2 separate regions of the Homo sapiens genome follow, and region 1 is linked to region 2. Evidence: fine-mapped expression QTL. A gene starts in region 2. The other region holds a variant in brackets. All regions are shown on one strand. Distances are between the middles of the regions.

The links. PIP is the estimated chance that this variant, and not a neighbour inherited with it, causes the effect.
Region 1: its variant is fine-mapped to the expression of SPMIP4 in whole blood (INTERVAL, PIP above 0.99). The same link has a PIP of 0.9 or more in blood mononuclear cells, lung, monocytes, nasal epithelium and tibial nerve.

What each region holds. Positions count from the first base shown.
Region 1 is chr7:25,149,393-25,161,484 of GRCh38, reverse strand. SPMIP4 (sperm microtubule inner protein 4) reads left to right here. Exons shown (of 10, transcript NM_138811.4): 4 at 225-296; 5 at 2,955-2,984; 6 at 6,293-6,474; 7 at 9,801-9,889. It overlaps LOC124901603 (a long non-coding RNA gene), which reads right to left and starts at 7,467. Exons shown (of 3, transcript XR_007060261.1): 1 at 7,418-7,467. The variant A/G (reference allele first, on the strand shown) is at 7,744.
Region 2 is chr7:25,174,640-25,186,731 of GRCh38, reverse strand. SPMIP4 (sperm microtubule inner protein 4) reads left to right here and starts at 6,378. Exons shown (of 10, transcript NM_138811.4): 1 at 6,378-7,070; 2 at 7,400-7,557. The coding sequence starts at 7,424. All of the region lies in intron 1 of LOC124901603 (a long non-coding RNA gene), which reads right to left. It overlaps LOC124901602 (a long non-coding RNA gene), which reads right to left and starts at 10,918. Exons shown (of 2, transcript XR_007060260.1): 1 at 10,835-10,918; 2 at 9,101-9,892. RefSeq lists silencers at 6,143-6,532, 6,593-6,872.

The DNA.
Region 1 (12,092 bases), 25 kb after region 2:
CAGGAGGATCTCTTGAGCCCAGGAGTTCAAGATAAGTCTGGGCAACATAGCAAGACCTCGTCTCTATTTATTATAAAATAATAATAAATAAAATGACACCTTTTCATATATTGAATTTCTACATATATGTGGATATGTTATTAATCTATTTGTCTTTTACTATCTCACCATTATATTGTGTTAATTTTAAAACATGTTTAATTTAATCTTTTCTTTCTTTTCAGAAAGCTTCCTGTTGAACAATTTTATTATTTGACCCAGAACAAAAAAAGTGATGTCTATGGAAATGATTCTTTGTAAGTCTGGGTTTTTTTCCTTATATAAAATCAAATAACATTTTTAAGTGGAAATGAGTTATATGAGACATTTTTAAAGCCCCAAATGGGGACTTTTAGAGAAACAAATTATTTCTTTTTTAAAATAGAGACAATGCCAGAAACCAAGACCAAACAAACAAAAGCAAATAAATAACAAACCAATAGTTTTTAGTGTTTAAAGAAATCAAGAAAAAAAAACAGGAGCTGATGAATAGTAATGTTCAAAGGGATTCCTAAAAGTTATCTTGGTCCATTTTCCTGCCTTTGACCTACTTACCCAACCTAGTAAGAATCTGCTACATTTATTAAAATATCAATAGAAAATGCCATAGTGGCCCTCAATAAATTTTCAACCAGAATTTTACAAGGATAGAAGTTTTTTATTATCATCTACAAATAACTCTTAATAACACTTCCTAAGTATTATTTTTAACGTAAGGCATACTTGTTAATTTACCCGTCACTTAAAGGTATTCTTTTCAAGTGTATTATTTTGTTACACTTTTAAATAGTTTGTCGTGTACATTACAAAAGCATACATTTTTATTTTTAGATAAAAATAAAACACAGCTGGGCACAGTGGCTCATGCCTGTAATTCCCAACACTTTGGGAGGCTGAGGAGGGTGCATCACCTGAGGTCAGGAGTTCAAGACCAGCCTGGCCAACATGGCGAAACCCTGTCTCTACTAAAAATATAAAAATTAGCTGGGCGTGATGGCAGGCGGCTGTAATCCCAGCTACTAGGGAGGCTGAGGCAGGAGAATCACTTGAACCCAGGAGGCGGAGGTTGCAGTGAGCCGAGATCACGCCATTGCACTCTAGTCTGGGCGACAAGAGCAAAACTCCATCTCAAACAAACAAACAAATAAATATTAAACACGACAGCATAGAAGTAATAATGGAACTATCACTTCTTTATTAAGAAGTACTAGTTGTTGATAGGTAAAAATTTAATATAGAAGTTAGCCACTAGATGGCGCCAAAAAGACAAAATTTGTGGTTGTCTCGGTTTATCCCTTTGGTGATTTTTGCAAAGCAGATGTGAAGGGTGGCAGTAAAATTAATGGGCTGATTTAGGTCAAGGAAGAGGTGTCTCAGCATTTGTTACTTTCATTTTATCTTTTCAGATCTTGAAGTTTTAAAAAAGATTTTATATTTTAAATTTATTTTTTTTTTTCATTTCGAATCAAATCAAAATGGCATATGCTTTTAGGCATATGCTTATCAATATTGTAGTGGAATTTGTCACATAAGAATAATTTTAGATGCTAGCTTAATGTATTATATATAGTTGCCAATCTATTAATAACAACTCTAGATTCCTTGGATTCATATATTCATCACTTCCCTGCCCTTTGTGCCCCCACCATCTTTCCAACTCAGTGATGTTGATGGAAGATAGAACATGCTTTTTTTAGTTTCGTGCCCACAGATTTAGAGTTGAAATTTAAAAAGATATAAACTTTTATAGTTCATGAGAGTCAGGTGTTTATAATACATTACAGGATAATAAATTTATATGGCTTACATGCCACTTTCTAGGGAGTATCTGCTAGCATGGAGGAACATCTAAAAAATTAAACAGTGTATTCAATTTTACTGACTTTTACTATCAAATTGATAACATTCTGTTCATTTTTCACACCTGGAATCTTTCAGAATTTTATTTGCATAGGCTGAAACGAATTGTTGAAATCCAATGTAGGTGGATGATTACCCGTCTTTAGTCGACTTTTTTCCAGGGCTACAGGATTATTTCTTGGCATGCAAGGTTCGGAGTAATTAGTAAATGCACAGCCTTGGAATGAACTGCTTCAGAAAAGGCATGCTTCCAGGAACTTGGTCAGTTTTGTTCTATTCCCTCTGCTGACCGGGCAACATTTACTATCATGAGAGATCAGCAACACAGAGCAAAGGTAGAAAGCATACATGGTACTTAAATATCCTCTCCAGCTGGGCCACACTCGCGTCACTTTAGGCTATGAAATTGCACCCCATGTATAACGTCAGGCTTCCTCAGAGCACTCTGGCTACTGCCTGACTATGAGAGTAAAGGTCAGAAAGAACCAGAGCTCTCTTATCATTAGAAGTAGTCATCCCTTGTATCTTCACCACAAATGGAAAATGCAGAAACAGTGGTGAGGTTAGAATAAATGGATGGAAAAATTAATCAACAGACAACTGAGATAAGGAAACAACATATGCCTGTCTTGTCAATATTCAGGAATCCAGAAAGTTAATCAAGAACATTATCTTAATGACATTACAGTTTGAAAATGGGGTATATCATTATTATTATTTTTTTTTTTTTTGAGACAGACTTTTGCTCTGTCACCCAGCAACCTCCACCTCCTGGGTAATCCTGAGTAGCTGGGATTACAGGCATGCACCACCATGCCTAGCTAATTTTTTTTGTATTTTTGGTATTTTTGGTATTTTTCTATTTTGTATGTTGCCCAGGCTGGTCTCGAACTCCTGAGCTCAAGCGATCCGCCCACCTTGGCCTCCCAAAGTGCTGGGATTACAGGCATGAGCCACCATGCCCAGCCTATATCATTAATCAAGTTTCTAATAGGGATATAAACCTTTAAAAGCCCTCAATATAAGTTAGAACTTGTTTCCTGTTTTTATTCTAGGATACCCAAGCCGCCTAATTCAACAGTAGGGTAAGTAAATAACTTATATTTTCCTTCTCTGTTATAATCAAAGAAAAAAAAATTGACATTTCCTATGTCTTAGAAGTGTGAAAACAAGTGAGACTTCCCATGAAAACGTTTCTTTTTTTTTTTTTTTTTTTTGAGACAGAGTCTCACTTTGTCGCCCAGGCTGGAGTACAGTAGTGCCATCACAGCTCACTGCAGCCTTGACCTCCCTGGGATGAGGTGATCCTTCCACCTTCACCTCCCAAGTAGCTGGGACTACAGGTGTGCACCACTATGCCTGGCTAATTTTTGTAATTTTTGTAGAGATGGGTTCTTGCTATGTTGCCCAGGCTGGTCTTGAACCCCTGGGCTCAAGTGATCCGCCCACCTCGGCCTCCCAAAGTACTGGATCACAGGCGTGAGCCACAGTGCCTGGCCTGAAAACTATGTCTTAACAGTTGGAAGGAAAGGCTGGTACAAGTCCAGGGTAACATTACTTTGATTTCTCTCCTGTTATATCCCCTGAAAATCTTTTTTAGTAAATGTTTTATTTTCGTATAATTTTAGGTTTATAGAATTATTAGAAGATAGTGTGGAGAGTTCCCATATACATCACACGCAGCTTCCCCTATTGTTAACATCTCACATTAATATGGCACATTTGTCACAATTAATGAAACATTGCTGATGCATCACTGTGACCCAAAATCCATGCTTTATCCAGATTTCCTCAGTTTTTCCTTCATGTCCTTCTTCTGTCCCAGGATCCCATCCAGAGTACCGCATTACATTCAGTCACCATCTCTCCTTAGGTTCCTCTTGGCTGTGACAGTTTCTCAGACTTCCCTTGTTTTAATGACCTTGACAATTTTTAGGATTATTGGTTAGATATTTTGTAGAATGCCCCCAAATTGGGCTTTGACTGACATTTTTCTTATGGTTAGACTGGGATGATGTATTTGTGGAAGGAAGACCACAGAGATAAAGTTCTGTTTTCATCGCATCGTAGCAAGGGTACATGCCGTTGGCATGATCTATCCCTGGTGATGTTAACCCTGACTGCCCGGCAGAGGTGTCCTCAGCAGGTTTCCCCGCTGCACACACACTCTTTCTTTCCTCCTTTCCACACTGCACTCTAGAAGAAGTTCTCTGTGTGTCTGTGTGCAGCCCACACTTAAGGCATCTGGATTTATACTCCACCTTCTTGAAAGCAGACTACCTGCATAAATTATTTGGCATTCTACATGGGAGATGTATCGATTCCACTCCATTTGTTTATTTATTCAATCACTTATTTCTCTCAGTATAGACTCATGGAAATTTATTTTGTGCTTTAGTACTTAGGTAGCAATCCAATACCACTTTCTTTTGTTACTAAGATTGGCAATGAGGAGCTCTTTGAGTTCGCTCCTATATTCTTTTGACATTTCCCCATCATCGTGGGGTTTTGGCTTTCTTTTTTTTTTCCTTTTAGCATTTCCTTTCTTTCTGTCACTCTGCAATAATCCAGGCTCATCTTATATAATAGCTTCCAGAGTGGCCGGGCGCAGTGGCTCATGCCTGTAATCCCAGCACTTTGGGAGGCCGAGGCAGGTGGATCACAAGGTCAGGAGTTCAAGACCAGCCTGGCCAACATGGTGAAACCCCATCTCTACTACAGATACAAAAAATTAGTTGGGTGTGGTGGTGAGCACCTGTAATCCCAGCTACTTGGGAGGCTGAGGCAGGAGAATCCCTTGAACCTGGGAGGCGGAGGTTGCAGTGAGCTGAGATCCTGCCATTGCACTCCAGCCTGGATGACAGAGCAAGACTCTGTCTCAAAAATAATAGTAATAGTAATAATAACTCCCAGAAACCCTGACTCCTTTGATTGGGGACAGGTGTTAGAAGCCGAGATCTGAGCACCCAGTATCCTCCGTGCCACAGGAGTCCTCTATCAAGCTTAACAGAAATTATTAAGCTGCCATTTAAAAAATTGTGTTTCAGCTAAAGACCTATTCAAAAGGCTATTAAAATTAACTTCTAGGTTTTTTTGGTCTTTCTATTTTTTAAAAAACGACAAAGTGAAGAACCCTTGTCTTGAGCTTTTCAAATTCTCTTCATAAACAGTTTGAAAAGTAAAGTCCTTTTTGTTAGGTCATATTTCTTGGATTCACCTTTCTGCTTGTAGCCTGGCAAGTTCCAAGGTGGGAGGCCGGAAGTCTGAGATGAAGACCTCAGCAGGGTTGGTTCCTTCTGAGGACTGTGATAGAGACTCTGTCCCGTGCCTCTCCCCTGGCTTCTGGGCTTTGCTGGTGATCTTTGGCACTCCTTGGCTTGTAGATGCATCATCCCGATCTCTGCCTTATCTTCACATGGCATCCTCCTCAGGTGTTTGTCTGTGTCCAACTTTCCCTTTCCTAAAAGGATACCAGGCATCTTGGGTTAGGGGCCCACCCTGCTCCAGTATGGAATAACTCGGTCTTAACTAAGTATATCTGTAATGACCCTATTTCCATACAAGGTTACAATATGTGGCCCTGGAGACTAGGATTTCAATATATGGATGAGGGCGGAAGGGAGGAATTCAACACATAAACACTTGGTCTTGCTTTTTTCTGCTTAATTTTCTTGTTATGAATAACATTTCTCTATCCCATGGACTTCCTAATTTTGCTTTTCTTCTAGTTTAGACAGCTCCCACATGGTTTTTTTTTAACCTCTGCCAGTTCTCCAAATGATAGGAAAATTATATCCCTATGGTCTCTTTAACATGTTTATTTTTTCCTTCAGTGTGCTAGCTGTTTTTGGCTTTTTGATTTTGAAGCAGTACTGTGTATATAAACAGGGGTTATATTTTGTTGATTGTTGATTGTTGATTGATTGCTTAAAGAAACAGATGGCCTGGGTTGAAAGTTCATTCAAAGATGGTTAGAGATCACTTTGCTGAAGCAGAATGCCCAAAACAATTCCTGGGAGCCTCTTAAAATAAGACACAGTAATTAAAAGCAACTATACCATTCTACAAACACAAAACTCATTTATTTTTTGCTTTATATTTTTTATACGAGTTATGAAACTTACTCACTGACAAAGAATTGGGCATGATTTATTTTAAAATTAAATTTAGTTTTGTCTAGCAAAATTAAGAAAATGTCCTGTTTTGTGGTATACATTCCAAGAGAATGCTAATTCCATGAGCACAGGGACATTGACTCACTGTCCTATCCCCCAGCATTAGAACAGTTTCTGCCATTTAAAAAAGGGTCCCAATAAATTTTTGATGATTAATTTTTTCAACCATACTTCTTTCTGTTCTTTTCATTTTGTTTTGTTTCCTCAATAAATCTTAGAGAGATCTGCTTGCCATATCCAATTGAACACCCCTACCACACACACATCTGTCGCGGCGCCATGTTCCCCACCTTCACGTCACCTGAGGACCTCTACACGGGCATTAAAGCCCGCACCCAGCAGCCCTTTCCTCCCACGGTGCCAACCAAGGCTTATGATTCAACAGTTTTGAAGACAAGAGGTAAAATGTGACCTGGAATCAGAACTGTATTAATTCTTATTATTGGGATTTCTTCAATAATAAAATTAAAGCAAGGAGCACAAAGGACTCAAGTCACAAATGTGTGACTCAATAGATCAGGAAACTTGTTCACAGCTGCGACTTTACAAATCAGCTGGCGCGCCACCATGGACCCATCAAATCAGACTCTCTGCAGGTGCTCCCAAACTTTCCCCTTGACACAGCCTCTCATGTTACAATCAGAAACCAAAACGTTGTAGAATTGGTGGTTTTTATTCCACTTCTATTTTCTATTTTTATTTCTTTCCTGCTCTCACGGTTTAGCTTTTAAAAATTTCATCCTAGCCCAGGTGATCAGCACAAGGGACAGTGTTTGCATCAATCACAGAGTCTGGACGTGGATGCAGCAGTGATAGAATTGAAAGATCCCCATTGAAATAAGATGCAGAAAGCAATGGGAGTAGTTTGTTCAGTCCTTCTTAACACCCTGGAGCAGGTTCTCCCAGCTGCAAACCTTGGAGTCTTTGTGAATGTGTTTTATCAGGAATCCCGTACACTAGTCATCGAATCTCTCCCACACTAGACACCTCGGTCTTTGCTGAGGAGTCCTACACATGTGCGTAAACAGAGAGGCCACCTCTGGAGAAAGAGTGAAAACACTTGAGAGAGGGACAGAAATGATACATGGTAGGCAAAGACAAATATTTGTTGAGTGCATTTAGGTGAGGTAGAAAAGACTCAAGAATTGTCCTATCCTGCAGTTCCTCTATACATGAATATTTGGACCAAAATGCAAGGACAGAATATTGCCATCGTCAGCCTCAACCTCGGTGTCTTATTAGCAGACAGTAACGTTTTGAAAGCTAACATAGTGGAATATGTAAGAGCATGGATTCTAGAGTCAGACTGCATGAGTAGAATTCTGGATCTGCCACTTACTCACCTGCGGTCCATGGGAGAGTTTCTGAACTCCTCTGTTCTGCTTCGCAGTCTGCAAAATGGGAATATTATTAATAGAACCTACTTATCAAATAACAGAGATAAATGTTAGCAGTTATTCTCTTACCCTGCTAGCGTATAATGACTGCAGTATGTGTGTACCATGCTGAACTTTCCCATTGCCTCTCAGACTAGGCAGCATTGGAAAAAGGCAGTGAAAGCTGTATCAAGTATACTGGCTGTTAGTATCGAGCACCATGCTTAGCTCTATAGCAGAAGTGGGGAGAGATGGTGCCATGCAAAAGAACTATAAATGTTCTAAAGGAAATG[A/G]TAAGTATGATACATAAACAAGTAAAATTTTTATGACTTTGTTACGTAAATTGTCAAAGTAGATTTCTTTTTCTCAATCCTGAATTCAGTAATTTCTGAAATTATCTGAAGTACACATAGTTAGCAAGAAATCACAGAAATATGTGTTGAATTCATAACAACACTTTTTTTTTTTTTTGAGACGGAGTCTTGCTCTGTTGCCCAGGCCTAGAGTGCAGTGGCACTTTCTGGAACCTCTGCTTCCCGGGTCCAAGTGATTCTCCTGCCTCAGCCTCCCAAGTAGCAGGGACTATAGGCACGTGCCACCACACCCACCCACCCACCTAGTTTTTGTATTTTTAGTAGAGACAGGGTTTCACCATGTTGGCCAGGCTGGTCTCGAACTCCTGACGTCAAGTGATCTGCCCGCCTCAGCCTCACAAAGTGCTGGGATTACAGGCATGAGCCACCATGGCCAGCCCATAAAAACACTTTTCAGTGCAGTAACATAAGGGACTGAAAAAACAAGTTGTCATCTTAATTTCCTGCTCTTCCAAGCCTCTACCTCTCTCCAACCATTCAGTCACTATTAGGGAATTTTTAAAAGATGAGCATCCTCTAACAACCCTTATAAAAAAATCTTTCCAGGAACTAGTACAGCATTAGGTTTCTACTCTTCCACTTATTTTAATTCTTCTTTATTAGAACTAAGAAGCATGGGCCAGGTGTGGTGGCTCATGCCTGTAATCCTAGCACTTTGGGAGGCCAAAGTGGGCAGATCACTTGAGGCCAGGAGTTCGAGACCAGCCTGGGCAATATGGCAAAACTCTGTCTCTAGTAAAACTACAAAAATTAGCCAGGCCTGGTGGTGCATGCCTGTAGTCCCGGCTAATTGGGAGGCTGAGGCATGAGAATCTCTTGAACCCAGGAGGCAGAGGTTACAGTGAGCTGAGATCATGCCACTGCACTCCAGCCTGGGTGACAGAGAGACTCTGTCTCAAAAAAAAAAAAAAAGAGAGACAACGAAGGGAGGGAGGGAGGGAGGAAAAGGAAGAGAGAGAGAAAGAGGAAGGGAGGGAGGAAGGAAAGAAGGAAGGAAGGAAGGAAAGAAGTTAGGAAGTTAAGAGTGCAGACTCTAGAATCAGATTGCCTGAGTTTGAATTCTACCTTTGAGATGTGGACAAATCACTTATTCTCTCTCCGCTTCAATTTCTTTATTCACTAAAGTTGGAATAACAGTACCTTTCTTATAGTAATGTTAAAAATTGCATGTGATGATGTATATAAAACAGTACAGTGACTGGCACATGGTAAGTGTTCAATAAACACCAGCCCTTGTTCTTATTACATATGAAGATGGGTGTTCAGAACATTCTTTAACTTGAAACTTATCACGAGAGCAAAGCGAGCCATGCTGTTTGGTAAAGCTTATCAGATATAAAACAAAATCTAAAAAGCTGTATTGTTTAAGATGTTCCCTTTCAATACCTTTTTGGTAAGCAAGTACTAACTCAGTTTCAGAAAACTTGATATTTAGGCAGAGAAAAGCCAAAACAGATAATATAGAAATGTATTTGTTGAGCCCCCAGAGGCCAGAAAAAAAGATCAGAAAGAGGATCCAGGAACACTTACTATTTACCTAAGATCTCTCTCATTAAGAAGAAAGGTGAAGTACTAGTGACTCCTATTACTACTGAGAGCACTAGGGTTAAAGACTCATTCACACTCTGTGTGGCCCACATGCTGCTCCTGCACATGCTCAAGAATTCAAGAGCAACAAGCCAAGTGTGGTGGCCTGCCCTGCCCTGTAGTCCCAGCTACTCAGGAGGCTGACGTGGAAAGATCATTTGAGCCCAAGGGTTCAAGTCCAGCTTGGGAAACATAGCAAGACGCTATCTTAAAAAAAATAAAAAATAAAAAGAATTCAAGAGCAAGCTGAATCTCTCTAAAGCTGTAACTACATAGGTAAAATGTACACCAACATCCATCTCTACCTTGTATTATCTCATTTCTATTTATTGTACCTATTAATCCTCTAAAAGACTGTTCTTATTTATTGCTTTTCCTGAAATTTTCAGGTAATCCTTATAGATATGAACTGATTGATATTCCCATGGATTCAAAGAAGAAAGCACTGACTTGGCCAGGTCAAGGTGTATATTATGATGTAAGTATCTTTTTAAATGTGTGTTTAAAGGAAAGTAACAAATATTTTTAGTCAATACCTTTATAAAAATCTAGGCTTGACATGGTGGCACATGCCCATAATCCCAGCACTTAGGGAAGCCAAGGTGGGCAGATTGCTTGAGGTCAGGAGTTTGAGACCAGCCTGACCAACATGGTGAAACCCTGTCTCTACTAGAAAATACAAAAATTAGCCGGGTGTGGTGGTGCATACCTGTAGTCCTAGCTACTCGGGAGGCTGAGGCATGAGAATCGCTTGAACCTGGGAGGTGAAGTTTGCAGTGAGCCAAGATCATGCCACTGCACTCCAGCCTGAGCAACAGAGTGAACTCTGTTTAAAAAAAAAAAAAAAAATCTAAAAGTTTATTTTCATTTTCTATCTGAATGTAAAATTTGAGATTTTGACTATGATTTACATTTTTCAGTTTTCTTAGCTGATTTCATGTGCTGTTGGTAGTTATGGAACATTCCACAGTTACCAAAAAAAAAGATTGCCCCCAGGAAGATGGTGGAGGAGGGCTGCATTTCTCACACTGTGTTCCTCCAACCCTATTCTTACAACTTATAATACCTCCAGTCACTCCAAATATGCAGAGAGTAAATGGGAGATTTCCAGAAAGATTTGCAAGCTATTATTGTTCCAGCCATTATTATCATATTGGTGTCAAGTTTAAAATGAAATAAAGCAATAGCCACCATTTATTGAGAAATTGCTACACATCTAACCACTCTAAATACATCATTTAACCCTTTCAATAACCTCCTAAGGTTAGCATCATCATTTCCATTTTATAGATAAGGAAACTGTGACTCAGAATTTGTGACTATGTCATGATCACAGAAATCTGGTTTGTGAAGTTCTAGTCTCTGACCTTAACCTCTGTCCCATAACTCCACATGGATAAAAAGAGAAAATTATAAATCAAGAGGGAAAATATCTAGACGTTTGAAAATAATAATAGCTAACATGGTTGGTGAGAAGCAGTGCCAAGTGTTCTCCATATATTATCTCTTGGCATCCAGCAATCCATGAGATAGGCAAGTGATAATTTTGGGAGGTTGAAAACATTTGAATTTTACCTGGCAAACCACTGTGACAGGCCCAGCATGTGGTCATCGCCATGTCACAGAGTCATCTATAAAGTAAGTCATTTCCCGTTTGTTTTTTTATAGTTAAATGTCAAAAAGAAGTCCTAACGAAGCGTCTGTTTTACTGGATCTCTTTCAGTTTTTAAGCAAAATCTATATCTAAACAACCCAGAAATATGAGAGTTATTCTAGAACCCATCCTATCATTACATGTTCTTATAGCCAAAGGCTCCAGATCTGTAGCTAAGTTTCTTCCTAGTCATTAAAATCCTGTTTTCCTCATGTCACATTCCTTGGCAGCCATCCTGAATAGCTCCCCTCTGCCTGAGTGTAAATCCCTATGCCTTAACTGAGGTGCAGAGACCCCTCAGGATCTGCCCTTACCTCCAGCCTGCAGCCTGGCCCCACCCACTGGTTCCCAAACAGGTTCATGCCATTTCCCTTCCTGGAATGCCCTCCTCCCAAGGCCTCTCTGCCCAACACTTGCTAATTCAAGGCTCAGCTCAACCCTCTTTGTTTCTGTTATGTAGCAAAGAGAACCAGGTCAGGAGGCCTGTGTGCTTGCTGGTCACTCCTCTGTTGCCATTTACTGTGTGAGTGATACTAGGCAGATTATTTCCCTTTTCTGAGCTTCAATTCATAAAACGTATCTGGGTAATTTCACTAAAAATCTGTCCTGTAAATTTCACAAGATAAGAGGATCATATGAAAGATTCAAAACTAGAAAATACTATAATTTATAAGGCATTATTATTACTCCAGCAGCAGAAATGATATCTCCCTCATCTGACTTCTGCCACACATACTGTAACCAGTAACTTTTCACGTATTTCATATTTCATCAATTAAATTATGAGTTATTTGAGAACAGAATGTGTTATGTGTATATCCCCACAGTGCATTGTACATAAATATTTTTGGCTGATTTATTTATTTATTTCTTATTTCTGATGATTAATCCCACTTTCTTAATCTTTATTAACTGCTCTTAATTTTCAACCTTTCACATTTTCTTCTGGCTCATCCCTAACTCTAATCAAGTTTTGCATTTCCCTGGACAAAGAAGTAAAAATAAAATAGATGCTGAGCTTCGTGGG
Region 2 (12,092 bases):
ATTGTTCCGTGTAACACCAAGGATACAAAAAGTAATCTCACAGCAAACACAGCAAAGCATAGACAACCAAACAAAGACCCATGACTCGTGGCAGAATAAATGAACAACTTGTTTCTTTCACCAGACAGAAGACAGTCTTTTGCCTAGATCGGGAGTCACGCATTCCAGCCAGTGAGCTAGGAATGGGTGCTTTCCACATTTAAAGAGTTGTAAAATGAAAGAAGAACATGCAACAGAGACTGTATGATCGCATGTGGCCCGTGGAGCCTGGCACCTTCACTATCTGGGCCTTTGGAGAAAGAGCTTGCCAACTCCTGTACTGGATCCTAATGCTGAGGGCCTTTGTTCTAAAGTAAAAGAACAACAGAAAACCTGAGGAGGGAGTAGCTGGAGGAATTTGGGTAGAAGTAATAAAAACACAACCACTCTCTCACAACCACTCCCCTCCCCTAGAAGAGTAGCTCACATCCTACTTTCACTGTGAGGCCACTGCTTTTGTTTACCACAGCACAGACAGAAGGACAATTCACTCACACCCTCTTGTTTCCTCTGTGTTCTTGCTGACTTGCCGCAATTATTAAAAATGTTGGCCAGGCGTGGTGGCTCACGCCTGTAATTCCAGCACTTTGGGAGGCCGAGGCAGGCAGGTCACCAGAAGTCAGGAGTTCAAGACCAGCCTGGCCAACATGGCAAACCCCGTCTCTAATAATACAAAAATTTGCCGGGTGTGGTGATGCACGTCTGCAATTCCAGCTACTCAGGAGGCTGAGGCAGAAAAATCGCTTGAACCCAGGAGGCAAAAGTTGCAGTGAGCCGGATTGTGCCACTGTACTCCAGCCTGGGTGACAGAGTGAGACTGTGTCTCAAAAAAAAAAAAAAAAAAAACAACTCTGCACACCAAACCAAGAGGCTGCAAGTTGTACTGTGGGCTAAAAACCGAGTCTGCCACTAGAGTTGGCTTTCTGGAAAGCCAACTATTTTGAGATAGGAACAGTCTACAATGGGCAGTTTCTTCATGGTGAGCTGATTCGTGAACTCCTGTTACTTATGGCAATCACTGTGCTTGATCTTGGCACTGCTACCCAAGTACTCTGGTCTGGTGAATCTACAAGGTGTTTTAAAAAGACAGAAGTGGTAAGGGAGATGTAAGAGACAGGAAAAAGAGAGGAAAGGGGTATTTTATCTCTTTCAATGGGTTGATTTTCCTACAAAAAACGCCCACATACAACTGTGAATGTTTACAATTTCACAATGAAAAAAAGAGAAAATGTTTTCCACCTTTGCTGCCTATCTCTTTAAAGAATATTTATCTTAAATATTTTGTTTCAAGAAAAGACCTGGGGAAGTGATAATTTTCTAAGTACCATATGACCCAGCAGTCAAATTTGAGCCAGAAAAATGAAAACTAATGTTCACACAAAAACTGTCCAGAAATGTGTACCACAGTGTTACTCATAATAATAATCACAAAACTGGAAACAACCTCATTTCTTCCCATGGATGAATAAAGAAATTGTGGAACATCTGTACCATGGAACACAAGTCAGCAGCGAAAAGGAAGGAACTACTGACCCCAGCCGCACCCTGGATGCATCCCCAGAGAGTTATGATGAGCAAGAAAAGCCAATCCCAAAGGGCTCCCTGTTGTATGATTCAGTTGACATGACATTCTGGAAATGTCAGGTTTATGGAAATGGAGAAGGAGTCCCCGGTGGCTGGGGTTACAGAGCGAGTGGTGAGGGAGGAGGCGATGAAGATGCTGGGTACTTACCGCATCTTCCCTCCCTGACTAGGTATCACCATGCCCTGAGTACAGAATGTGACACCACAGGATGCTCCCGGACTGTCCTCATCAGCTGGAGCCCCCGGGGGACAGCATGTCTTCCTGTCAGTTGCATCTAGAAGTGCCATGCCCACCCTCTCTATCGAATACACGTTTCATCCATATTTGTGTGTGTGGATCAGTGAAGAAGAAACTTAAGTAGTGGAACTTAATACATATGTGGAAAACATATTCTACATAACTTCACTCAACCAGGCAGTAGGGATAGCACATGGGGCCATCTGTATATAGGTCATAGTTCAAAGCATTGAATCATGACAGAGGAATAGAGACTGACCACTGAGTCTTCTGAGCAGAGGTTTAAGATTAGAGAGAAAAAGGCTACCCAGAAGGAACTCAAATTCATGGGACAAAATGTTAGAATATCCATGTAGGAAGATGCAAAGAAAGATAAAAGGAAAGATGCCAGGGAGGCCACAAGGACAAACAACTGCATGTAACCAAGGGCACATGGCCGGGTCACCTCGCTAAAGGGTCCTGATGATCATGTTTCTAAATAGAAGAACCTTACATTGCTTTTCAGACATTTCCAAGGGAATGATATCAGAAGCACAAGAGTCTTGGTTAGGTGACCATGGACCCCTACAGCAAGAGTGCTGGCCCCAGTCGAGCACTTACCTCACTGATTATGACTCTCCATGGCTCCATGTCCCCATAGATTGTAGGTGCTAGGACAACCCCTGATGCATTCTAGGTAACTGTTTACTAAATAGCACATTTTATAAATGTGTGCATCAACGTCACTTCAGTGTTCACTACTAAATGACCACCTAGTTCCTTAGCTACTCAAGGCAAAAAAAAAATTATTATTGTTTTTCACACAGTAAATTTTTTATTGGAGGAGGAGAACATCTAAAATCTACATTCTTAGAAAAATTTTAGTATGCAATACAATATTATGAATATTATAATCCTTGTGCTGCACATTACATTTCTAGGCTTATTCAATTGATCATAGTTGACATGACTACAACCATAAAGACTGTTGAGATTACAATGCTCTTTAAAAATAACCCTCTTCAAGAAAAAAATTGAAATGACACCCACAAAAAAGCTGATTGCGTTTTTATAATAAACAACTATGAAAGAAAGAAAATATGTTTTGAGAAGAATTTAAAGTACTGAACTTAGGTTAAATTATTTAGTACCAAAAAAGTATTAAAGTGTAATTTAACTCATTTGTAGTTTAAAGTCAGCAGAATATACATACTTTTAATTGTCATCCTACTAAGAAGATACATATACTGAAATCAACAAGGCTTTAAGTTTTTCAATTTTTAAAGATGCATATTTTAACGTTACTGAGACACTTTCCAACACATCTTCTAAGCAAGGCACCAGACTCCAAATTGTTTTTTCATGTAAAAAATATTCACTGGGCCGGGTGCATGACTCACGCCTGTAATCCCAGCACTTTGGGAGGCCAAAGCAGACGGATCACCTAAGGTCAGGAGTCTGAGACCAGCCTAGCCAATATGGCAAAACCCCGTCTCTACTAAAAATACAAAAAATTAGCCAGGCGTGGTGGCGAGCACTCGTAATCCCAACTACTTGGGAGGCTGAGGCAGGAGAATTGTTTGAACCGGGGAGGCGGAGGTTGCAGTGAGCCAAAATCACACCATTGTACTCCAGCCTGGGCAACAGAGACTCTGTTTCAAAAAGAAAAAAAAAATCATGTTCCTGGTCTCTTCATTCATTTTACTGGTCTCTATAACAGACTTAAAAGAAAGGTTATAGACTGTAATTCATGCTTTATGTTATTATCTACCTCCTACTTATTCTTTACCTGAAGGTGAAAGGTCTAACTGTGATTTGGAATTGTCATCAACCCACAGTATTCTAAGCATATATTATTTTCATTGCCAAATTTCATCTTCCCTGCTTGAAGGATTACTAGCAAAATGAGGTGGTGACAAGATCAACATGTGAGAAGTCAAAAGAAGGCAATCTGAGGCTACTGGCCCCCTGGCCATGTTATACCTAAGAAATTCGTCACTTGAGCATCCCTGGGTAGGAGGCTACTTTGTGTTGTTGAGATCACATCCTGGCTGAGATGGAGTGAGTTAAATCACAAAAGCTAAGAGTAACGAGTGTTGGTCAAACAAATAGACCCAATCCTGATATCCCTGAAAATTTCAGATGGAGAAGCATTTTCAAAGAAAACAATTGTTTTACAACGATCTGACAATGAATTTTTCTTGCCGGTACATTTTATTTGAAAAACGATAAAGATAAAAATAATTACATTTATCTGCCTTTTACACTCATCTGACCTAAAATAAAATTTCAAATCCCCTAGAACCTGGAGGCTATCACATGGCATATCCTGATCATTCAACCTGGAGTTGACACACTTTCTCCGGTGTCACTACCATCCATGTACATACATGGCTAGTGATGCATCTTCATCAGATGCCTCTGATTAAATCTATCATGCTCAGTTATTCCTCCCAGGAAGAATCAAGCCATGGGAAAATAGGACTAAGGTTGAGGATGAGAAAAAGGTGAAGTATAGAAAGTACTGGAAGACTGGGGACATGAAATGGGCTGGGGAGACAAGGAATTTAATGGGAGATCCTGAACACAGAGGAGCAGAAAAGGGGCAAAAGCTTACAATGAACTACCAGAAATTGGAGGGGAAATAAAGATGTCAAAGATAAAAGCCAGTTTCACCTAATACACAACTCTGTCTCCAGCAGGATCTATTCCTCTAGGCTTAGTGGGTGGTAACTACTGGAAGGTCGGCAGAGGTGCAGGAACTAAGAAATAAACCAAGACTACAAAATTACCACTGTGCCTACTTCAATACACCTTTCTTCCCCCACTCCAGGTAACACTCACATAGAAGGCACAGCACAAAATGAATGCCCACTGGTTGGTTAGTAGAAAGTTGTAAAGTAGGCAGAGAATAGCAAAGGCACCATCATACTGTTACCAAGCAAAGGAGGCTCGCTGCCCGAGGCACTAGAAGTCAATACTATAACACTGGGTTTTTGATAAAATAAAAACTTTTATTGCATGTCAACCAACAAAGAAATAGGAAGTCCAGCTCAAATCTGTCTCCCTGTGCTGGCTTTAGGACAATTATTTTATTAGAAATGGTTTTGAGTGTGGATTCTGGGATTAGCAGGTGCTTGGTGGAAGGAAAGAGGAAGTCTGGAAAGTCCTTGCGCATGTGCTCTTATTTCTTCATGCTACCTAAGGGTTCCACGTGCAAATTCAGTGAGGAGTTAGTATGAAACATGGCAGTAGAAATTCAGCTGTAAGGTCAGCAAGCTGGATCTGTGCAGACTCTAGTTGGCCTTATATGTTCCAGTGGATTTCAGCCAGTTTTATTAACCTACAAGCCCAGGCATTTCAGCATTTCAGCAATTTGTTTCTTTTATCTGCCATCCTGTAAACTCAAGAATTTCTATGACTGTTTTCTTTAACTCTTTGGCACACAGTTTCAACGCCCTTCTTCTCAGAGGTGGTCATTCTCACCCTCACCTTCTGGTTCCTGCAGGCTCATTTCTAGCCTCCCACACTGTATTAGTCTTTTCTCACAATGCTGTAAAGAACTGCCCAAGACTGGGTAATTTATAAACGAAGGAGGTTTAGTTGACTCACAATCTCACATGGCTGCGGAGGCCTCAGGAAACTTACAATCATGGCAGAAGGCCACGGAGAAGCAGTTACCTTCTCCACAAGGGGGCAGGAAGGAAAAGTGCTGGGAGAAGGGAGAAGAGCCTCTTATAAAACCATCAGATCTCGTGAGAATTCACTCGCTATTACGAGAACAGCATGGGGGAAACTGCCCCCATGATCCAATTACTTCCACCTGGTCTCTCCTTTGACAAGCGGGGATTATGGGTATTACAATTCAAGATGAGATTTGAGTGGGGACACAAAGCCTAACCATATCACACATATACACACAACCTAACCTCCTCACATCCCATTCCTTGATGGGGTGGCAGGTGGCGAGGGGGGGGTGACATCCCTTATTGTCAGCCATCACAGGAACTCATGACCCTGTAGGTGCAGATTCATGGCTCACATTTGTATCTTTTGGGGAAAACTGAGGTAATCAAGGTGGGGCTAGGCCCTGGGGACGAGGCAAGTAAAGGACTTTGCCATGTCCGCACCCACCAGGGAAGGAGCAGAGACTCTGTTAGGGCGCCATGCCAGGGGCTGCAGTTTCAGAATCCTGCAGACTCCACCCTCTATCTGGCCACACTGTCCCCAATTTTTGCGAGGTGACCTGGGGAGGGAGGACAGGTCGGATGCTCCGACCTCACCAGGGACTCCACTGGACCGGAGCTCTTCCTCCTCCGCCCAGTCCACATGAGAGAGCTCCCTGGCCGGCCCTGAGACAGCTCCAGACCTGGTAGCCCTGGAAAAAGAAACTGGTATCGCCATCGCCGCCGCCGCTAGAGGGCGCCTGGGGGCGGGGCGCGGGTGGGGCAAGGCGGGGTCCGACTGGAGGCAGGGCGGTGAGCCGAGAGGGGCGGGGCAAGGGACCGGGAGGCGGGGCCAGGGGTCGCAAGGCGGAAGAGCCCCTCTCGCCTCCGACCCGGCGCCTCGCACTCCGTTCACTCTCGGTTCCTCTTCGCATTCTTGCCAGTCCCGTAGCGCTGGGCTGGTTTCCTCCGAGGTCTCTAAGAGCCTCCTACTGCGCCCCGCTCGCCGCCCGGAAGCCCCCAGCCCCTCAAGGACGCATCACCTAATGCCGCGGTCACGGCCACCGTCACAAGCGCCCCCAGCCCCACCCCACCCCGGCCTGCCCGCCGTCCTTCTCCCGCCCCCGCCCCTGCCTGCCAGCTCCACCGGGCCGTAGGTGCGGACGACCTCAAAATTCCTCGGCCCGCGAAGGCCGCCAGCTGCGGGGAGGGGAGGGGAGGCGCGGTCCCGCAGCGCCCCCAGGCTCATGTCCCAGGTATGTCCAGACCCCCGAGGCACCGCTTGCAGGGCAGTGACAGCCCGTGAGGCTCGGCCTCGACCCCTGGCACCCTTGGTCCCAGCTACGCCGGCTCCTGGCCTTCCCCCAAGTCCGAGAGAGAGGTGGGATTCTCCCCGACGCAGTTGGAAACCGGGAATCCCCTTTAGGGTCCCGTTCGTGCTGCACTACTGACTCCACCATCTGCAAAGGGATTCTTGTCCAGAATCCCCGAAGGCTTTAGGACAGCGCTTATTTTGTTGAATGAAGAGTCTCTAATTTTCGGAAAGACCACAGGCTAAAAGTCAAGTGAGTTTTCTTGAATAGTTATAGTTAAATTTAAGGCAGGAATTGAATGTCAGTTGATGGCCACAAAGTAGCGGACTGGTACGAACCTACTGGATGATCATTCTGGTGACTACTTGGAGGCACCGTCCACTTTGTGGATTTGTTTCAGTTGAAATTTATTTCCATAGAACTTATTTAGGTCTCTATTTATTACTGATTTGACGGCTTTCAGTGCAGAGGGAAGCCTGTGACGTCTGTGCAGCGTCAGGTTGAACAATTTAGCAGTGTAAAATGTGTTTTCTGCCTGCCTTGACTCGACAAGCCAAATGTGCCCTCCTTTTCTTTTCCAGGTTGTGCCTTTTTAGCCAAGAAGCATGGAAGTCATTCACGGCAGGCCCTACTGTTGCAGGGAGCTTGAAGGAGCTGACATACTGTCCAACACCTTTTACTCTAATGAATTGCACAACCCCCTCCAGACGGTTACTCGCCCAACTGCCTCAGAGGACAGGTAAAACAAAAACTAGAAAAAGCAAACAAGAAAAAGCAGTTTTAATGTATTCGTGTATTTTATTATGTGAGGAAAAACATTTATTGTTCTGGGGCTCTTCTGTTTCTTGTTTGTTTGTTTGTTTGTTTGTTTTTGAGACGGTGTCTCGCTCTGTCGCCCAGGCTGGAGTGTAGTGGTGCGATCTCGGCTCACTGGGACCTCTGCCTCCCAGGTTCAGGTGATTCTCCTGCCTCACCCTCCAGAGTAGCTGGGATTACAGGCATGCACCACCATGCCCAGCTAATATTTTTGCATTTTTAGTAGAGACAGGGTTTCACTATGTTGGCCAGGCTGTTCTCAAACTCCTGACCTCAAATGATCCACCCACCTCGGCCTCCCAAAGTGCTGGGATTACAGGCGTGACCACTGCGCCGGGCCGGGGCTCTTCTGCTTATCATATAATAGGGAAGGCAAAACGTGGCAATTATCTGAACCTTCAAGTGTCTGTAAGGAACTCGAGAAGTAAGTGGCTGTCTACTATAAAAGCCACACATCAAATTCATCCACTACATTCTAAAATCTTAGAATGGTCCGTTCCTTCATTGGGAAATTAATATGTTGTAAGCAAAGACTTTTATAAATAGTACTGTATTGGTTCCCTAACATGCCCTTCTACCATCTGCCCAAAAATACTCCCAGAATTTGCTGCTTATACTTGTGTAAATTTTTGCTTCACCAAATTCCCTGTAACACATTAATTATACATTATGATTTAATTTATGAAAAGCAGTTTGGTGATTTCTCAAAGAACTCAAAACAGAATTACCATTTGACCCAGCAATCCCATTATTGGATTCTAAGTTGTTCTTATAAGTTGTTCTATCAAAGGAATATAAGTTGTTCTACCATAAAGACACATGCACAAGTATGTTCATCACAGCACTATTCACAATAGCAAAGACATGGAATCAGCATAAATGACCATCAGTGGTTGACTGGATAAAGAAAACATGGTACATATACACCATGGAATACTATGCAGCCATAAAAAAACGAGATCATGTCCTTTGCAGCAACGTGGATGGAGCTGGAGGCCATTATTCTAAAGCAAACTAACACGGGAACAGAAAACCAAATATCACCTATTCTGACTTATAAGTGGGAGCTAAACATTGAGTACACATGGAGACAAAGAAGGGAACCACAGACACCAAGGCCTACTTGAGGGTGGAGAGAGGGAGGAAGGTGAGGATCAGAAAACTACCTCTTGGGTACTATGCTTATCACCTGGGTGACAAAATAATTTGTACACTGAACCACTGCAACATGCAATTTACCTGTATAATGAACCTGCATATGTCCCCCTGAACCTAGAAAAAAAGTTTAAAAAAAAAAATTACAATGAAAATAATTGCACCTATCTAGTGATTACTGTGTGTCAGCACTCTACCAAATGCTTTGTATGTAGTAATTCTTTTAATCCTCATGACAACCCTATAAGTACTACTGTTATCTGCATTTTACATATGAAATAACAGATACACACAAGTAATTTGCCAAGATCTTAGTGTCAGCATTTCCTGTATTGTATTTACTTGAATCATTTTGAGAAAAGGAAAAGGAAAAAACACCTCAAAACACCTGGACAGTGAAAAAATAGCCTGAGTGGTTGTCTACTTGTTTTGTGTTTTTTGTTTTTTTGTTTTTTTTTTATTAGACGGAGTCTCACTCTGTTGCCAGGCTGGAGTGCAGTGGCACAATCTCGGCTTACTGCAACCTCCGCCTCCTGGGTTCAAGCAATTCTCCTGCCTCAGCCTCCTGAGTAGCTGGGACTACAGGCACACACCACCTCGCCCAGCTAATTCTTTTGTATTTTTAGTAGAAATGGGGTTTCACTATGTTGGCCAGGATGGTCTCGATCTCCTGACCTCGTGATCCATCCGCCTCAGCCTCCCAATCATTTAAGAATTCTCTAGGAAACCAGACGGGAAGTCACCCAGCCTCAGTTTAAACTCTTCCAAAAAGGATAGCACTTCCACACCAGGCAGTCCATTCCATTTTTGAATGCTCCTGATTGTTAGATCATTTTCTTTCTAATGTGAACAATTTTTCCCTTGTAATTTCTGCCTGCTGATTCTGGTTCTTCCCTCTGAAGCTATGCAGAATAGTCATTCATCATCCCATGCTAGCAGCCCTTCAAGATCTGAAGATTCTCTTGTCCCATGTGAGAATTCTGTTTGCCAGACTAAACACTGATTCTCACAGATTCAGCTCCTTTTTCTTCTTGCGCTTAGCCTTTCACCATCTCGATCAGACTTCCACAGATCTTCTCCGGTTTACAAACATGCTCTTTATACTAATAAAGAAAAAGAATGATTTTTCCGTAATTATAAAACTAACACACATTCCTCATAATGTAGAAATCATAGAAATTTGTAAGGAAAACAAATTCTTTATTTTTCCAACAGAAAAATTATGAAAATGAAGCACAGGAAAGAAGCCCTCTATATTTCCTTTATCCAGAGATAATAACCACTGTGTTAACATCTTAATATGTGTCCTCTCCAATTTTTTTAAATGTAAAGATCATATTCAACATTTTTTAAATCAATTGCTATTTTCACTTAATGAAAAGAAATATTCTTGTATTGGAGGAAAAGGAGCTCTTGTCACTTCTGGGTCAGTCCTTGCTGCCCCTACTCCTCTACCATTGACCTGATTCACAAGAGTGGTTTTCAGCCCTAAATTCCTGTTCAACTCCAAGGGTTATCACATTAGGCAGAGCTTCCCTTGAGTCAAATAAAACCCTTAGTGGATTGTGTGTGATCTGGGAATGGGCAGTTGTCCCTGGCTCAAAAACAGCAATGTGAGGTTTTATATTTGGCCTAAAGGAATCCAAGAATTTAGGGCTGCCATATCTGAATGCACCATCAAAAAGCACTGTCAAAGGCTTTTCACTGAAATGTTGATCCCCTCTACCTAAACGGTCCTATAGTTGGTTAGTGATCAGCTCCAAAACCCTTAACTGGCATGAAATTTAAGAGAAGCACGTTTTTTGTTAACTGACTATAAAATTCAACACGATATATGGCCAACTATAAACTACAAAAAGGTATTATTTGAAGCTCTATCTAGGTATAACCATGCTCCTGGCTCCTAATAACTACAACTTGCTTTCCCTTTTATTTCACGTGAATTCTTTCCTTTCACAATCACCAGATTAAGAAAACCAGGATGATCATGTGTTCTCAGAACCCCTCCTCTTAACCCCCTCTTAAAAAGCAGCCAGACAGCTTACAAAAGAGTGTCTTTCCTCTCAGTGTTAGTGATGGAACGGCTCTGGACGGTGATAACAGGATACTGGTGGTAACTCTGTTCTATCATTGCTGAGCCTCACTTCTTCAGACCAAGTGCAGGGTCCGTGGCTCCCAATTTGAATCACAAGGTATCTCAACAGCAAAATAAAACAATACAAAACAGAAAGCCCCTGGTTTTTCAGGATTACCTTCATAATGGTAAGGGTGAACGTGAGCCCTAGCATACGTTTGCACTCAGCAGCTTAATTTTCTAAACACAGATGTACTTAAAGGGACACCCTTTTTCAATATCATGATGTATCCAGGTACAACTTAGATCATGTAGGCCATACCTACAACCTAGATGCAGCCATCATGGCACTCACTTGGCAGTTTTAACAGTGACGCAAAACGATTTCCTCACATCAGCCTACTTTTTTTTTCTTTTCACAATAGGTGAGGTGAATACAAAAATTAGCCAGGTGTGGTGGCTCACACCTGTAGGTCCCAGCTACTTGGGAGGCTGAGGTGGGAGGATCACTTGAGCCTAGAGGCAGAGGTTGTAGTATGCCAAGATCACACCACAGCACTCCAGACTGGGCAACAGAGCGAGACTCTTTCTCAAAAATCAAAACAAAATAAAACAATACAAAAATAGGTGACACGGCCTAGCTCCCCTGTTACCCAGGACTGGTCTACAGACAGGGTACTTCAAAATCACCTGAGGAGCTTTCTAGAAAAACAGATTCCCAGGCTGCCTCTATATATGGACATTCTGACTCCCCAGGTCTGAGGGGGTGCAAGGGAATCTGCATTTTTTAGTTTTTCAGCTTACATTGAGAACTACTGGGCTAGCAGCACTGAAAATATAAGAAAACCAGGACTATGGATCTGGCTTACCTGATGACCAAGAGCAAGTTAGTTGCTACACTTTAATTACTTTACTCAAGTGGATTTTTTGGGACAATTATGCTAGCCACTATTTTATATAAACTTGCTTGATCTCCATTAAAAATATTAAGTATATAAACAGGTGGTAATTTTTTCTCATTTCTTCTGTTGAAAATTTAACTGGCAGGAACAGCTACTCAAAATCATCAAGATTCCTATCCTCTTTTTCATTCAGCTGACTTCTCCTTAACTTCTAGCAAGTTCTCTCAGCTCACAGGGCAAACAAACATATCCATTAAGGAAGTGCCTTGAGAATTGCTTAGGATTTCATTATATAATAGGATTTCATTATAGAATTTCATTATCAGT